3 linked regions of the Homo sapiens genome follow. The protein of the gene in region 3 interacts with the protein of the main gene of each other region in a biochemical or structural test. Each region holds a gene or a part of one and is shown on either strand. Other genes may lie near its edges.

Region 1 (3,500 bases), on a different chromosome or scaffold from region 3:
TGGGTGTGCTGGCCTACATATTTACAAGCATAAGGGGAAAGTTCAGAACATATGCAGTCTACAGAAGAAATATTTCATCACTAAGATCAAGCCCTGCAGTGAATCTCTGCAGTCATCCCACTGGTTTTCATTTCTTCTCTCTCTCTCCCTTCTTTCCTTTAATTATTTTTATTTATTCCTGTGAACACCTGATTCAGGCTTGTTGTCGGGGTAAGATTATAATGCTATAGACCTGGAAAGGCTCTCATACCCTACTACACCTTGTTAAAAGCTATTTTTAAATGAAATCATTCACCTGTCATGTTTATAGCCTATTATATAAATTAATTTCTCACATTCTGAATATGTTACTTTGTGTAACCATTAAATGACCATTTATAGATTCACATATGAGGATTTCTGGTGTTTGATTGTAGCCTCCACTTTCAAGGTAATCAAATAGTCCCTACTCCCTTTGTTTTCAAACTTCAAATTGCTAGAAGAGTAAGGAAGAGAGGGAAGGAGAGGGAGAGAGAAAGGAAAGCAATGCAATGCAGTTGGATATTTTACCTCCAAGGCTGGAAAGAGGATTTATCTCCTTCTCCTACAGGAAGGTGGAAAGGTTTTCTTCCTTTTGTCTATCCAGATGATAAAGAGAGAATCAGACGGACTTAAATAACTCTATACAACTGAGAAACAGGGTCATTTCAGTATCTCAGAGTTTTGCAGACAGCAGCACCAGAATATAGTCCTTCCTAAGTAACTTTAATTTTGGGGGAAAATAATTAGCAAGACAGAAGTTACTTGGAATACTAAAAATCAAGAGATGATTTGAGAGGTCAGGGACCCCTCTTGGCCATATGGAACACTCAAAGTGAGGCACGCATACTCATAAAAGTGGATTAGATGTTGACTGGGTTTGGATGATAAGCACTTGGTCCCAATGAACTTCAAAAGTAGGAAGGCAATGGCCCCAATAAAGTAAACAGAGTGGCTGGTAAGCCTTCTCCCTGCTCATATACCCCCTCTTTCACTCTTATTTAGAGATTCATTATTCTGAGTTTTCTTTTCTCCCAAACTTTATAAACAAATGCACATGTACCAAAGGAGACAGTTTATTAAGGTGCCCACCACACAGCCTGGCCCCAAAATTCTTCTTATTATCAACATCTAATTATAATAGAACATGTTCAATACAAGAATGCCAAGTGAGTGGATAGCCCAACACTTTTTCCATCCCTCCTTTGGTGATTGGGATTCTTCTCGACACTGGTCAGCCCTGTAGTAAATCGATCCTTGACCCAAGAGTGCACGCCCAGGGAACGGCCATCCCACTTGCACTGGCTTTGTAGCAAGGAAGGTCTGGGTTTGCGTCCAAGTTCATCACTTACAATCTTTGAGATACTGGGCAATTTTTAACCTCTGAATTTCGATTTCTCTGTCTATAAATGATACCACAGGATTGTTGAGGGAATGGAATAATATGTACAAATGTCTGACCCACGTCAAAATAGCTCACAACTGGTCCAGTTAAAGAGTTAAATCTTCTTCCTACATGCTTATGACAACCAGCATGCAGAAGAACAACAAAATGGGCTTCCTAGTTTATCTAGGTTTCAGTTTTCTGTACCAGCATCTATTACTCCATCCTCATATTCCCAGAAAGGAGGAAATTACGACACCTTAAATGTGATACATCATATTTGGTCAATCAGGGGTGAAATTTTAAAATCACTCACTCGGGTTGCCCAAACCCATCTCTAGGTGGGAGTTGTGACTGAACAGGCATCGGTACCACTAGCTCTAGAATCTGCCCTGTTCTATCTTTTGAAATAAATTAAAAAAGAATTCTAAGACTCGATCGTAGAAGTTAATGATGGTGTCCTGACTGGGAGAAACGTGTAGCCCAAGGGTCTACTCATGACAAAATGGCTTTCTATTCTATTTCATGACAAAATGGCTTTACCAGTTTAAGACCTGGTAAAATAGGAAGTTGAAATAAACCTCAGCCCTTTAATAGTTAAGACCCCAACAAATAAACAGTGGTTTAGTGGCATGACAACTTGCCCCCTCTCAATCTGTACCGTGCTTCAGATAATTTGAGATGTCTATTTTGAGTGACCCTCCAGCACATGTGATTCTAGGTAAGTATTGGTGCTATTCTATATCAGTATTTTCTTGCTGACAGAGTCAGAGGAGCTGGCATAACCCTTCTGACAAAGTCCTAGCAAGGTAGGGTTCCTGAGCCTTTCTATAAATCCCGGCAAGCTCGCCAAACCCCCGGTTACTGACATTTCTGTAAAGCTGAAAAACATTCATGCATCTGGACAGCACCACTGTGGAACTACTCTGACAAATTGGATATTTTTCTGAAAACTACCACTGCCATTTCAAAGAAAGCCAGAAACACATGCTGTATTTCTTAAAGTATCTTCGTAAATATAACATAGAAATTTCAGGGCTGAGCCTGGAAAATAAGCATTTTCCTACTGTCAAGAACAAACTGAAGGTCTTGGCTGAACAAGACTTGCATATTATACCTGTTAACTTTCCAATTTCAAGAGAAAAAGCCCAAGGGTCTACTCAAAACATGATTAGCGTAAAACAGCGTTTTCTTATAGGAAAGAAAGAACAAAAGGAAAAGGAAAAGTTGTTTCACATGAAAATATTCTGGATACTTATTTTTTAAAAGTTGTTCCTAAAATTTTACAAGTGAAGTACTGAATATCAAATTCATATTTTGGAAAGAAAGAACACCAGCAATATAGTTCACACATTCTTTAGAGTAGCAACCAAGCCCGTAGGAACTCTAAAAGCGAGTTATGATTTCTTAAATGTTGCAGAAGTAAAAGTTTTCAAGAGGAACAAAAAAGGGGCGATGCTTAGTGTTAAACCTGATACTCTACTAAGCATATAGGTCTCCAAAGAGCTGACGAATGCCCATCACACGGTCCACAATAATGCTTTTGCCCAGGAGCTTCAGAGGATGAGAACTCAATGTGCAACTTCCCCCCATTTTTTTGTTTTTGTTGTTAAAGAGGCATATCTGATGAAGAAGGAAATCAGATTAGATTCACTCTTCACCAAGAAACAGAGCAACTCAATGGTGACAATATCAATTTTCCCCCATGTGGCTGAATTTTCCATTGCCTTTAAAAATGCTTAAGACTTTTTGTTCCCATATCAGCAGAAAAAGGCAAATCCCTTAATCAACCTAGTAGTATAAATGGCCAGTTAGGCAACGAGAGACTAAGAAAACAGTCTTCCTTTTGATTTTACACATGAATAGATGATGTGAATTAGTTTTCTGAAGATTATGTGAATTAGTTTAAATGACCTTAAAGGCAAGATGAAAGAATCTCCTTGAGAGTTGTATCCTCTTTGGAAGCAAAGTATTGTTTTGCCCCAAGCCCATCTCGCTCACTGAACATACCATTTGACTTAATTTACCATATACGCTTGTATTTTGGAATTTAAAAAAAATCAATGTACACATTTTAAATCATTATTAATGATTATTA
Region 2 (2,381 bases), on a different chromosome or scaffold from region 3:
CCCTGGGAGGACACCCACGGAGCTGGCACGAGCGCAGCAGGAGAGACGGACGGCAGCCTCCGGCGGGCGAAGGACCCGGCTTCAGATGCCCGCTGGCTGGCAATCAGGCAGAGCCTGGCCAACCGTGCCAGGCCCCCTTCCTCACTCCAGGTGTGGGTTCATTCTGCCTTCAGGCCGGAGTCTGTCACAAGGCTGGCTGGACAGTGGCCAGGTGAGCCAGGCCAGAGGCCGGCCCCACACCATCCACAGGAAGCTGCTCAGCTCACCAGACCCAAGCCCTGGGCAGGGGCCAGGCTCACAGCAAAGCGCGTTAGGGCAAGGGCGTGAGTTTTCGTCTGGGAAGTTCTAAAAAAAACCCACAGTGTGAGGGATTGTGTGTGCCTTAAATCAACAGCTCTATTCCAATTACATCACATCACAAAATGCCATGAATGGAATCGGAAGGCGCTCCACCACCTCCAACACCCTGGCAGAAGCAGCTGCTCTCTACAGCAAGAGCATTTTCCAGAACGGCATGAGAAGGAGAGACGCACGTCCCAGGGACAGGAGAGCGCGCTGAGACCTCCCAGCACGAGATGGGAGGGGAGCCCCCGCCCCGTCCTGGACCGCCAGGAACCGAAAACCCACATGCACCCAAGAACAGGTGTGGACGGGGCGGCACAGAAGTCCACGGGAGGGGGCGACACGGGTGCTCTTTCACGGGAATCTTGTTGGGACAGCATTCCTTGGGGAGCGCCGGGTCGGCGTGTCCAAAGAGCGGGGGCAAAACGGCATCGAGGCAGAGGCTCTATGGCTCCTCCCCCATCTGCAGCAGGGAGTTGATGGCGGCATCCTTGTTCCCTCGCTGGGCTTCCAGCACGGAGCGGATCACCTCCTGGTCCATGTTGGGGAACATGTCCTGGATGGCTTTCAGGTCCTCCTCGCTACAGCGGGGCTGGGCGTTCACGGCGGCCGGGGGCAGGGCCACGGGCACCATGCCGGGGCTACAGACAGCGGGCATCCCTGGAAGCAAAGATCAAGTTTGGTAAAAACGTCGGAAAGTTCCAGAAGTGCCACACTAGCTCCTGCTGAAGGAAGAAAACAACGCATCCCACCGGCCTCCCTGAGGAAGGGGCCACCTCGGGTCTCAGCAAACACCAGTCCCGCAAGACACCCTGGAAAGGCAAACCCCCAAACAGCAACCCCAGGCACAGCCACGGGGAAGGTGGGCAGGGCCCTCTGTGACGCCTCCTTCACTAACTCATCTTCCTTCCATATAAAAATCAAAGTTTGATCTTTCAAATCTCACCCGAGTCTGTTTTATAACTAGCAGGCTGGGGGTGGTGTTTTGATCCCTTCAGAACTCGTGAATTTGCACTGCACACGCTCGTCTTCACTGACCAGTGGGCTCACAGAGTCCTCTGCATCTGGGGACGGACTACACGGAATGTCACGCCCGCTGATCCAAACACTGCACGGTCTGAGCCTCTTCCTTTATCAGGCATTCTAGAAGATGCTTTTGCAGCTTGGCAAGTGTGTCACTAAACTGTGTGCCGGTGGGGAACAATCACCACAGGCACTGAAGACCTCAGCAAAGCTGCAGCCGATGCCCAGAATGACAACCCCACACACACATACAAACTACACCAAGAAAATGCTCACAAAACTCAAACAAGTGGGGCAGCAGGTGCGGTGTACAGTGGACCCTCAGTGCACTGGGGCCACCGTCCAGGGTTCCTGGCATCTCCACCCCACAGCTACGCAGGCCCCTCGCCCCATGTCTGATGCGGGAGGACACACTGAGATGCAATCTATCGAGCAGGAGACGCACGGCGGTTCAGCCACTGCAGCACACACACCCCTGAAGGCACCGTGTGGCCGGACTTAAGACTCGCCTCCCAGCCTGGTGGCCGCTCCCTAAAACCACGAGCAGCCCTGAGCACAGGCAGCGTGCGCGGGGCTCAGCGACCAGTGAGGCACAGAGCACAGGCAGCGTGCGCGGGGCTCGGCGACCAGCGAGGCACAGAGCTCCTCCTGCAGCAGCAGCTGCAGCAGTGCAAGGGTTCACTGCTCACCCGTTCATTCACCTTTAAAAGCACGAACCATCTCCCAGCTAGGATCACTGGAGCGCTAGAGCCCCAATCTTAGGATAGGACTTTTGTTCCTTTCTACACTTGGAGGATCCTAAAGGCAGCAGAAGCCACTTCAATCCTGGCCTGAACCAACACCAGCAACAAGACCTGCAGGGGTGTAAACGGAGCAGACAGGGCTTGCCACCAAGCCTCCTGCACCTGCTGCAAAGGCCAGGACTCCTCAGCAAGGAAGGCCACCGCTTCCCGGCTCCTTCTAGGCCAGGCCGACTCTTCCTCCACACCCACCCCTGCCTCCTCTGCTTCTCGGCT
Region 3 (5,811 bases):
TGACTAACAACATGGGCTCACCAGATTGTGGTTGGGCAAATATTCTCACTCAATTTATAATATACAGAATATATCAAGATTTTAAATATATTTTTCAGGCTAGAAAACAATTTTTTTCACCACAAAGTTGCATAACATGGTGGTTAGCTATATGCTTGATTAAAAAAAGACATGTGGCTTTCCCTTATAGTTTTCCTAGCAATTAAGAGACTCACTGGTAAAACTGTGCTAGATACTGACTTGTTCATTTTGCAACTGACAAAATCAAAGAAGCAGCAACGCAAGAAGTTTGTATTTGTACCTTTTTGTGCACATTATTGCATCTTTGGCATAGTCTCAGACATAAAGAAAAAAATCAAGATTTCTTAAAGTTTTGAAAGCTGCTTCTAAACATATCAATAAAGACATGACAAAAAGCTGTTCTTAAAACAATGAGTACGCATTTTAAAAATAAGTGGTATGTAGAAATTAATGAAATTTCCATGTGACTAATTCAGTCTATATTTATATATGCAAATATATAAATTACAATTTAAGGACGTGAAGTATGAAATTGTATTTCGTACTTCAAAATCATTCAGGATATAACATATGTAGACTTCTCTATAATCATATACTCAGTAAGCTATTGAATCATTTGTGCTATATGTCTACTTGAACTAATTTAAGTTCTAACAATGAATTCATGTATTTAACTCAAGTGTTCATAATCAGTATTATAATGCTATTATAGTCTCTTACCTTTTTATTCTTAGTCTTCTTCTTTTTCCTTTGTTTACTCTTAACCTAGTAGGTAAAAAATTATTTATTAAATATGTAATTCAAATTGCCCAATGGGTTATTTTGCAAAATATATTTCCTCTCACCACTGAGATCTTTTGTTTTCTAATATTATAGGTATTTCTTTCTAGATTCTATGGAAACAATTATTTTTGTTTTTATCATTTTTATTTTAATCCTAGTCTTCTGTCCTTAAATAATCACTGATGAATAAAGGAACAACACATAATGTCAATAAGTAGGTTACTGATAAAAGTTCACAGATGCTCACTTACACACATGGATGTAACAAAGGAGGAAGACACTTTTTAAAAAGCAACATATTCATGCCTATAAGATGAAAGATCTAAGGATAATTTAGTGACTATATAATAACTGTTACCACTTATTTGTAAAGAAATACGGAGATTCCATTCTGGACGAATTTCATTCTACCTCTGCGCAAATGGTTTTGAAATATCCCACTTTTCTCTTCCTTTCTTTCCTCTCTATTTTAGACTATACTTTCTTCTACTTTCTAATACCTTCCCACATCCACTTCAACTGGGATTAAAAAAACATATTACAGTCTAGCATAATGCCTGCCACATAAGTGTTTAAGAAATGGTGGCAAAATAAATGGTTATGGCAGGAAAGATTATGGAAGGAAGTACTGAGGCAAGGAAGGAAAGGACCATTCCAATTCAAGCTCTGTATAAACACTATGAAAATATAAGCTAAAATTATCTGGGATGCTTTAAGTACAGCACATGCAACAAATTAAAGGCCCAGAATAAGTTCTTCTAACTCAAATATTAATGAGAGCTTATACTTCCTGGAGATCTTTAAGAGATTCTGTTGAAGATTCACTGGGTATTGAGGTCCCATCTTTATTAATTTCTGCAAACTGTATCTCAGGGTGTGATTTCACATTTATATTGTACTCCATGAGAGGTGGACTTAGTTCTTCTTCCTCATTCTGTAACTCTTCTATTTCAATACCTAAACATAAAAGACAAAATTCTCAAAATCTAGATGAAAGCAATTTCAGCTTCTTATCAATGTTATAATGTTTGCCCAAAAAAGCAACATTCACAAAACAGAAATAAAATATATCTTACTCTTTTCAATTACTCGATGAAAATGTGATGTTCATTTATCAGTTACCAAATAATATGTACAAACACCAGCCTGGAACTAATCAGTGTGAACCTGAGTGCTATGTTACCTACTGGAATCTTAGGTAGACTCTAGATATTAGATACTCTAGAACATAAGTAGACTCTAAATACTAACTTTTTGCATGTCCTGACCTTGATCCTATTAATAATGCAACTAGTATTATTTTAGCACATATATCTGAAATATAAAGAAAAAGAAGACAAAAGATCTATTTTTTCTGTTTTCTTTTTCATAAGAGGGGTGTGAGCCCCCTATTATGTGACCTTTTCTTTGAGACTTTGCTCCTTGATATTGCCCCAGAGACTCAGTCTCAAAACTTGTGGACTTTGTCTGACTGGTCTCCAGAGAGTCCAGCATTTTATCCCAAACAAATCTGTGGTGGTGTTTTTTTTAAGTATAATTTTAATTGAATAATATTAATTACACTTAAAAAAAATAGCACAAAAATGGAAATTAAACAATTACAACTTATCACCTGGCAAAAAAAGTATATAGCTATAAACAATAGACAGACTAAATAAAGTTATACACGCTAAACACCAAACAGAGAAAGCAGGAAGGTATTTTTGCCTGCTGAAGTTTTTGTGAGTAAAACGTTAGAACATCATCCTTGGGAAAACCCTGAAGCACATGCACTAAGCCAAAGGCAGAATAAAGCTCATTCTCGATTCAGCCAGACCAGTGGTGATTTGATCACATCATTTTCCAAGTTCTTTTTTTTTGAGACTGAATCTCGCTCTGTCGCCCAGGCTGGAATGCAGTGGCGTGATCTTGGCTCACTGCAACCTCTGCCTTCCATGTTCAAGCAATTTTCCTGCCTCAGCCTCTTGAGTAGCTGGGACTACAGGCACCCGCCACCACACCTGGCTAATTTTTGTATTTTTAGTAGAGACGGGGTTTCACCATGTTGGCCAAGATGGTCTCGATCTCCTGACCTTGTGATCCACCTGCCTCAGCCTCCCAAAGTACAGGGATTATAGGCGTGAGCCACTGCGCCTGGCCCAAGTTCTTCACAATTATAGTTTATCATTTAGTTTATCTGAACAAATAAAAATTTCATAGGTATCCCTTGTTAAAAAGTCATTTACACATTTTATTTCTAAATATACTTACGCTGACTGCCTGTTATTGACTGTAGAGCAATTCCTATAATACATAAAGAAAAATTTTAGATGTACAATTGCAAACGCAACAAATGAATGTCTGGCTAGGATTAAGGCAGAATATTTTTATATTGCACCAATTTATTCTGTAAGTAACTGGAAAAATAACCAGCTTTGCTCATCAATCCAGTTTAGACAAGGCACAATCTTTAGATTATCACATAAAGGTTATAAACCCATGATTAGAGAAAAAAAAGTAAACAAAAATGTGGTATCACAGATAAAGCCTAGAACACAAGCACTTTAAACCAAGCAACGAATATTTATGTTTACCATCTAAGGCCATGAAATAATAGTTAATTACACAGCAAACCTCCACTGAAAGTTGGGACCTATTTTTAGCAATCTGATTTATCTGATCATCACTTGCTCTCCTTGCCCATTAATATTTATTGAGCACCTACAATGTACATCAGGCTGTGTTAAGCTCTAGAGATTGAATGGTGAAGAAAAAAAAAGACAATCTTCATGGAGATTTAGTGGGATGATGGATGTTAATCAAATTATCAGATATCCAAATAAAAAGCAACTAGAATAGCTGAGGAAAGAAATATAAGATGGTAAGAAAGCCTCTAGTAAAGGGACTTGACCAATAAGCTCTTCAGTGTACTTGAGTAAGAACTGCTTAAAATGCTTTGAATTGAATGGGTGCTCAAAACTCTTTCTCAAATACTCTATTCTCATGAATTATTTAAAATCCTAATAGAGTAAATGTATTTTTTAAAACCCTAATTTATAAGTCAAAAATTCTTGCCTGACTTTCTTATATATCAAACTCAGTGTCCTCCTCTTTCATTCTTAGATTATGCAAGAAAACAAAGGTATTCCAGAGCCTTAGTAAATACCAGGACTGAAATTGGGCACATCAATTATCTCTGAAGAAAATCTGGACCAGTTCACTAGAAACTTTTACAGTTGTATGTTTATATAGCATCAGTGTGGTTATCAGTTGTTCATTAGGCTGTAAATAACTTGAGACCAGGAAGTCATCCTGAATAGCACAGCAGGGTTTCAGAGATGTTGTCATGCCTTGAACTCTGCTTTCCAAAAGAATAGCTGAGAAGGTATCCTGAGATGTGGGAAAGGAGGTCTGAAGTCTTTTCCGTATCAATAGACAAGTTTGGGAGTGGCCAATACAAACACTTGCATGAATGTTACCTGATTTTTAAAATTATCTACAGCCAATGAATAGCTGCTAAAATTGTAAACTAAACAAGATTCTGCTAGAAAGTAGAAGAAACATACATCCACACTGTGTCTAAACGAACATCTTTGAAACCACACAGTACTTACATGTCATGGTTTTAAACTTTATTAATTTTGGAGAATAAAACTCCACTTAAAGTGATAAAACTGTACTCAAAAGTCTTCAACAATTTCTTTCTGAAAAATGCAGACTCCTTAATGTGACAAAAAAATCCTCTTGAATGTACTCTATGAACTCTCCCCTACTTTAATCTCAATGAAGCCAACATTTTTTAGTTGCCTGCAGTATATTTTTATGTTTCTATACCTTTATTTTTGTTTCCCTCTGAAACATTCTTCTCAGTCTGCTTCACCTGGCTAACTTCTGCACACCATTAATAGTTCTTTAACTATGATACTCTCCAGAAAGCTTTTTTGGACTTCTTTAGCCTAGGATTTCCCATGGTATTCTGGAAACATCTCTAGCACTATAATTTCTATTACCTTCCTGATGAGTCCATTTTCCCAAAACCATGAGCTCACTGAATCTCTTGCCCTTTGCACTGTGCCTGGCACAGAGCAGACATTCAATCAATGGAAGTTTATTGGCTGAAGTAAATAATCATTTAGTACCTTGTTGATAGCAGGATAACATCCTCTGTATGATTTCTGGTACTGGTATGCCTAGGTAGACAGATAGCTGATGGTAATCAAGGGAGATATTCTCAATGGGATTCTCCTTCACTTTGTCAATATCCTCTTGCATCATCCCAAGGCGCAGAAGAATATCTGAAACTTTTTTCCAAATTGAATTGAACTGTGACTCAGTGAGACCATTCATCAAAATCTCACTAAGGAGGATATCCCTGTATTTGCACAGTCTCAGGATGTCTGCAGATTTAGAGATGTCAGAAGATGGCGGTTCCATATTCCATCCTTTTTTGGGTGCAGGGAACACATTTAAATGTTTTATAAGAGCTAACAGGAGGCATAAGTCAAACTGTTTGGATTGCGGTAACTCCTTGTTAGGAGGATAAAGCAGATGCCATGATCCACCCAAAGGATGATTGGTCCAAAGATGGTTGTAGTAGGATTCCAGCACATTCTTGTGTATAAGAAGCTCTTTTTTCAAAAGAGGAGGTGGCATAGCCTCATCAAATATTTGTCGAACAATGTCAGTACCAGAAATAATAATTATATGAAGCAGATGATAGAAATAATTATAATCAAGCTTGAAGATAGGCATTTCATCTGAAAATAAATTTTGAGAAGTCAAGACATTCCACATTAATGCTCATTTTCTATTTGGTCTCTCACATTGTATCCTAAGCTCCTGTAGGATAAAAACTATTCCAAAAGAATGAAGGATAGTACAGTGCTTTGCCACAGCCAGTGCTCAATTAGCATGCTGCTTTCTGCCTGTCAAAAAACCTAAACAAAAACAACATGTTCCCAAGCAAAAGTAATAACAAAGACTAATCACCACAGAAGTCTTTCAGTCATCCAAGGTTTTGTTCAAGTA

What was found.
Region 1: the proteins of DZIP3 (region 3) and RUNX1 form a complex in vitro, tested with the Homo sapiens proteins (one study listed by BioGRID).
Region 2: the proteins of DZIP3 (region 3) and TOLLIP form a complex in vitro, tested with the Homo sapiens proteins (one study listed by BioGRID).

What each region holds. Positions count from the first base shown.
Region 1 is NC_000021.9:34,829,303-34,832,802, forward strand, and holds part of RUNX1 (runt-related transcription factor 1), read right to left. Parts: intron 1-3,500.
Region 2 is NC_000011.10:1,276,252-1,278,632, forward strand, and holds part of TOLLIP (toll-interacting protein), read right to left. Parts: intron 1,003-2,381; coding exon 788-1,002; 3' UTR 1-787. UniProt on the Homo sapiens protein: Component of the signaling pathway of IL-1 and Toll-like receptors. Inhibits cell activation by microbial products. Recruits IRAK1 to the IL-1 receptor complex. Inhibits IRAK1 phosphorylation and kinase activity.
Region 3 is NC_000003.12:108,643,893-108,649,703, reverse strand, and holds part of DZIP3 (E3 ubiquitin-protein ligase DZIP3), read right to left. Parts: intron 5,541-5,811; coding exon 4,923-5,540; intron 3,088-4,922; coding exon 3,055-3,087; intron 1,762-3,054; coding exon 1,592-1,761; coding exon of another isoform or gene 1,586-1,591; exon of another isoform or gene 787-1,585; coding exon 742-786; intron 1-741. UniProt on the Homo sapiens protein: E3 Ubiquitin ligase proteins mediate ubiquitination and subsequent proteasomal degradation of target proteins.